Homo sapiens: one gene and its partner. The protein of the gene in region 2 purifies or fractionates together with the protein of the main gene of each other region. This does not show direct contact. Each region holds a gene or a part of one and is shown on either strand. Other genes may lie near its edges.

What was found. Proteins that work in one complex are often made in the same cells at the same time.
Region 1: the proteins of RGS12 (region 2) and PPP2R2B purify together in Homo sapiens (co-immunoprecipitation; one large-scale study listed by IntAct). This does not show direct contact.

The regions. Positions count from the first base shown.
Region 1 is NC_000005.10:146,588,758-146,592,257, reverse strand, and holds part of PPP2R2B (serine/threonine-protein phosphatase 2A 55 kDa regulatory subunit B beta isoform), read left to right. Parts: intron 1-2,031; coding exon 2,032-2,311; 3' UTR 2,312-3,500. UniProt on the Homo sapiens protein: The B regulatory subunit might modulate substrate selectivity and catalytic activity, and might also direct the localization of the catalytic enzyme to a particular subcellular compartment.
Region 2 is NC_000004.12:3,436,021-3,438,216, forward strand, and holds part of RGS12 (regulator of G-protein signaling 12), read left to right. Parts: intron 1-2,196. UniProt on the Homo sapiens protein: Regulates G protein-coupled receptor signaling cascades. Inhibits signal transduction by increasing the GTPase activity of G protein alpha subunits, thereby driving them into their inactive GDP-bound form.

The DNA.
Region 1 (3,500 bases), on a different chromosome or scaffold from region 2:
TCACACTCCACCTGTTTCTTGGCTTTCTTTGCCACTGATCCAAAATGAATCCCCTCCTTAGCAGGCTTGGAAGGAGTCTCCACGTGGCAAAGGACCCAAGTCACACTGACCAGTTGGTATAGGACAGAGAGCAAAGCAACTGTGACATAAGAACAAAATCCACCATGGGAAAAAGAAGCCAGCCCTCTCATTTTATTATTTATTTATAGGTATTTATTTATTCATATATTATTATTTACATATCTGTTATTATTGCTCAAGTTTTTCCTCTATCTTAGCCTTGATTCAAAAATTACACTTATTAGGCACCTACTATATACCAAACACATTCGTACACATCATTTTATTTAATCCCAACCACAGTCTAACAAGATTGCTTCCATCGTTCTCATTTTACAGTTAAGGAAACTGAGGCTTAGCAAGATAAAGTAATCTGCCCAACCTCATAAAGTAGTAAGTAGTAGAGACAAAAGTAACAAGTTTAGAGTTTGAATCCTAAGATCAACACTCTTTCTATAACATCACAACTGGGAAGTTTAATTTCTCTTTCAGATAAGGTTGGTAGTCTTTTTTTTTTTTTTTTTGGAAAATAATCTCTTACTTGTTTAAAAATAAGTCGGGTCATGGTGGGCAAGCAAACGTCAAAGTATGGGAAGCAGTGAGGCCAACCGGCTGAATACTTATGCCCCAGAGTCAACCATATGTGGGTTTGAGGGTGGACTTTACCACCAATTAGCAATGTGACACTGAGCAAATTACTTCTCTGTAAAACCCTTTTAGGGGATAATAGAAGTTGAAACGAGATCATGGAGGCAAAGCCCTCAGCGCCCTGCCTGACAAGGTGATAACAGTCCACTCGAGTACACAGACACAGTTCACAGTATCAGTTTGATGAGCCAGAGTAACAAAATCTAACCTTTGCTTAATTTACCTGGTACAGGTGACAACGTGCCCAAAAACACATCCCCCTTGCTGTGGCCCAATCTTGTCAGCTTTTTCCTTCACCTCTCTACACATCCCAAATCATTTGAGAAATACACGAGAGTTCCTGCTCTCCCATCTTAAGGAGCCAGTCAGAGCTCCACCCAGAAATGAGTAGGAGCCCCCCACTCCAGGGGAACCACCGTGTGATGGCACTTGGGGTACTTGCCCTGGCCCAAGGAATCTCTCCCTCCCCACCTCAGCTTGTCACCGTGTCTGAAATGTCACCATTAAACATTCAGTACCTTGCCTCTGGAAGACATTGGGTGTTTGCCACTCTCCTGATCGATTGCAGCTATGCCTAAGAGGGGATAACTTATAAAAATGTGGAAACCATCTGTCCATTAAGTGTGGGAAAAAAACCATATAAAATCTTTTTATTTCTCCATCCCAGATTCTTTTAAAATTTGAATTTCCTTACTTGTTTCCTAGATAAGACCATGATGACATCCATTTCGTAGATAAGTTTTCTAAAAAGGCCGAATTCAGAGCTAGTTCTCGGCAGGGGAGAGGTCGCGCCCCGGGTTCGTGCACGATGCCACTAGCATCTCTCCCCTCACTGCACTGATGCCATGAAGCCTTAGAGGCCAGACGGCCCAGGAACCCTGTTGACAGTGGCCAAACCTTAAACACGTACAACTGCTTATTGTTTTCAAAAGTGTGTCTACTTCGACAAACCTCATTCTAGTCTCACATTCCTGATGGGAGGTAGGTAGGACTGGGATCATTAAAACCAGTGGACACCTTTTCTGAGCCAAAGAAGCAAAAAGAATCTATTGAGCAAAAGCAAATTACAAGGAGAGTTCTCACCATCCCTCATTTCCAAACCCAGCCAAAAATCCTATTGCTTTCAGTGATTCAAAAAAAAAAAAAAAAAACACAAAAAAAAAACAAAAAGCCAATAATCACACTGCAGAGCCTGTTCTCATTTTTTGGTTTTTGTTTTTAATAAAACCTATGGTGTCATAAGCTGGCCATAACATGGTATCATTTGCTCCAAAAAGAAAAGACAGTGAAGATATGTCATTGCCTTTGCTCTCTGCCTTGCAGTGTCATCATGACAGGCTCCTACAACAACTTCTTCAGGATGTTCGACAGAAACACCAAGCGTGATGTGACCCTTGAGGCTTCGAGGGAAAACAGCAAGCCCCGGGCTATCCTCAAACCCCGAAAAGTGTGTGTGGGGGGCAAGCGGAGAAAAGACGAGATCAGTGTCGACAGTCTGGACTTTAGCAAAAAGATCTTGCATACAGCTTGGCATCCTTCAGAAAATATTATAGCAGTGGCGGCTACAAATAACCTATATATATTCCAGGACAAGGTTAACTAGGTGGACAAGTTATTACTTAATAATCTCACATACTGAATACTAGTCAAACAAGTTTTTAAATGTTTCTTTGGGTCTTCATTTGATGCATTGACTTTAATTTCCCTATACAGGAAATGATTGGAATAGAATTAAAAGGAGTCCAACATTCCCAGCTCCCCAGTTCTAAGAAACTTTTGTCAAACCCAATAGGTTTGGGACACTTCTGTTTAGAATTGAAAGCTGCCAGCTAACAGTAATTCTTCCATAGTTGACTTGAACTTCTGATGCTTTTATTGCCCAGTTTTCTCTGGTGGGTCCAGTGTTTTGTTCCTAGGTGTCTGCTGCGATAAAATGAGGTTGTCTGTAGTATTTAAGGAGAAAAGAGATAAGTTTTTTTTAATTAAGCAATTCCATTTGATTGAAAAAAATCAACAAAAAATAAACACCGTTTACTCTTAGACAAATTCTTCTTGTTTTGTGAAAAACCAGAACTAGTCAGTATCTCCTGCCCCTCCACCATTTTTTTTTCCATTTTCCATTTTCCTTTGAACAATTTCATTTAAGCCAGAGATTTATTGCATGAAGCTGAGAAGAGGATGCAGAATGACAAGGAAAGGGCACATCAACCCTGCTATGCTCTTTTTTTGTAAGCTCCATAGAAACAGCCTGAGAATTTGGCTAGGGAACTTGAATGCTTCAGGGGACAGAAAGAGAGCACTTTCGACACAGTGCTTCCCAGAGTGAGCTTGGCAGGGCCAGGCGGGGCCAAATTCCATCTGCTGCCTTGTTACTCTTGCTTTTTGTGCTCTTAAATGGCTCCATATAATCTTCTACTTACATGTTCCTTGGCTTTTTTCTCTTCAACCTTTTCCAGCTTATTTATTCCATTGACTTCTAAAGGCCGAGTCCTGGGTGCTTATTATCTGGTGTTCTAAATGAAGCAGTAAGTTGGAAGCAGTGCCACCACCCCTGAGTCCCTGAGAAAGGCTGGTCTGTTCTTTTTGGGTGTTTCTCCTAAGCAGCACCCTCCCCTCCTCCTGGTTTTGGTAACCAAAAGTAACAATCCATCAACCTCCATTGTACCTAGAACAAAAATAGCCAATAAAAACGCTGAGTTGTGAAGTCCAATCAGGCACTTCTAACTCACCCCAAGCTCGCCATCTGGAAAAACAGACCAGAAGGCTCTCTTCTACAGAAATGAACTGTGGGG
Region 2 (2,196 bases):
ACTCCCTCGCCAATGCCCAGCAAATATTTGAGGAGCTCTATCCCAGCCCCAGCCCATCACACACAGTCATGATCCTGGCTGGGGACCCACACGGACAGGGGGACCTTGGGGGGGTCACACTCTGGAACTAAGGTTCTGGGGGTGCTCTCGTTCCCATGGGGGCCCATCAGCAGGAGTGCACAGGCCTTAGCAGGAGCCCGTGGGGTGCGCTGTGGTGGGAAGGCTGGGAAGGGAAGGGGCCTTGGGAGCCACAGTGGATTGTAGGGTCCCCGCCTCTGGCTCCCCTCGCTCCCCCCTTCCTGCCGTGTTCTCAGTGTGAGCCGGCTCAGCCTTGCCTGGGTGTCCTTGTGCCCTGCGAGCTTCCAAGGGGCGCTGGGGAGGCTTCACAGAGGAGGTGGCTGCGCTTGGCAGCACAGATGATGTGGAGCATGGAGGCAGAGGCTGAGCAAAGTGCCTGGGGGACGGGGTCCCTCGGGGGGCAGGAAGGGCGGGCAGTGGGAGAGGTGCCAGGCCTGGGTCTCGAAGGAGAGCCTGGGAGAGTTCAGGCCATGCCCCTGCCCCGGCCAGGCCAGTGCAGCCCCTGCTCCCGCTGTGCCTGCCAGGGTTCCTGACTCAGCTTTGAGGACCAGGGTGGGGCGGGGTCCTGCCCCAGGCCTAGGCCAGAGCAGCTGGCAGTGGCTGGCACAGAGACATTCATGGACAAGTGTCTGGGAGGCCTGGGGGCGACCGGCAGCCGGTGAGGGGCCTGCGCATGTGGAAAGAGGGGCCTTCCTGCTGCATCTTGTGGGGCCTCCAGCAGGACCCCCTCCTGGGAAGGCTGGACAGCACAGTCGGAGCCGGCAGGACCAGCCAGCCGAGGGCAGGGAGCCGTGGGGCGCCGGGGAGAGGTTCACAGGTGGCCCAAGCGGCAGGGAACAAGATCCCAGTGTGGCCTCAGGTCTGGATGTTTGGAGATGTGGCACCAGGAGTGAGACCAGGAGGCCAGGCCCCTCTGGAGGTGGTGCAGGCTCTGCTGGGTCCTCTGTGTTGCCATCCCTGCCAGGGAAATGCTGGGCAAGAAGGTGCTCCCCGGGCAGGCCCTGGCATGTAGGTGGTGAGGCAGCGTGCTGCTCAGGGCGGGGCCAGGCAGCTGAGTCACAGGCCTGGGGCTGGCTGCCCTGCACAGGAGGGCGAGGCTGGCTCCCGTAGGCAGGAAGGGCCTGGCTGTGGCCCCCTCCTTGTGATGTGGACATCCTTGGTCCATACAGAGCTGTCCTGTCTCCAGAAACAAGTGTTTCTCCATCCTGAGCACACTAGCTTCCTGGGGCCCTCAGGGGCCTGTCCTCCCATCTGTCCATGTGGGGCTGGCGGGGTAGAGCCGGGCTTCTGGACATGTGTGGTGTTGCAGGCCCCTTCAGAGCCCTATGAACACTCCAGGCAAATGCCCAAATGCCCACGGTATTGACCGGCGAGAGGGGGCAAACCCCTGCCTCTCCCCACACGATATCTCCCAGCCCTGCAGCCTGGCATCTGGAGCCATGCGGACCTGGTGACAAGAAGGAGATGGGCAGAACTGTCCCCTTGTCCCCTGGGGGCAGGGCTAGCTCCTAGCCCTGGCAGAACCTAGTAGGACACTTGTTGAATGAGCAGAGGCCTGACTGGGAGAAGTTTCTAGTCTCAGCTGCTCCACATGGACCCCTGGGCCTCCAGATGGCATCTCCACCGGGCCTGGCTGAGTAAGACACACAGGCCCCACACAGCTCCCACATGCTGGCTGGGCTGCTGCGTCGAGGCCAGGATGAGGGCCTCTGGGGCCACTGCTGGGACCTGTTCAAGAGAACGGGCTGGGCACGCTCAAGAGGGGAGTCACACCTTCCGCCCGCAGCCCGGACTTGTTCACAGATGCCTCATGGAGGCTGCTTCCGGAAGCTTGGACTGAGGGTGAGGAGGGGCACGCTGGGATTGGGGACCTTGGTGGCCACGGAGCCGCTGGGGCAGCAAGGACCCTGCGGCCATTTCAGGGACCTCAGAACTGTAGATCGAGGAGGGTCTTCACCTTCCCAGGCCTTCGATTCACCTGTGGAGGGCAGCAGTTGGTAGCAGGGACCCCCTGTCCCTGGTTCTCATGTGCCGGGGGCTGGCTCTTCCTGCCTCCTGTCTGCTGTGGGCCCAGGCCTGGGGCTCCTGCCACCCCATAGGCGCCTCAAGGCCTCCACC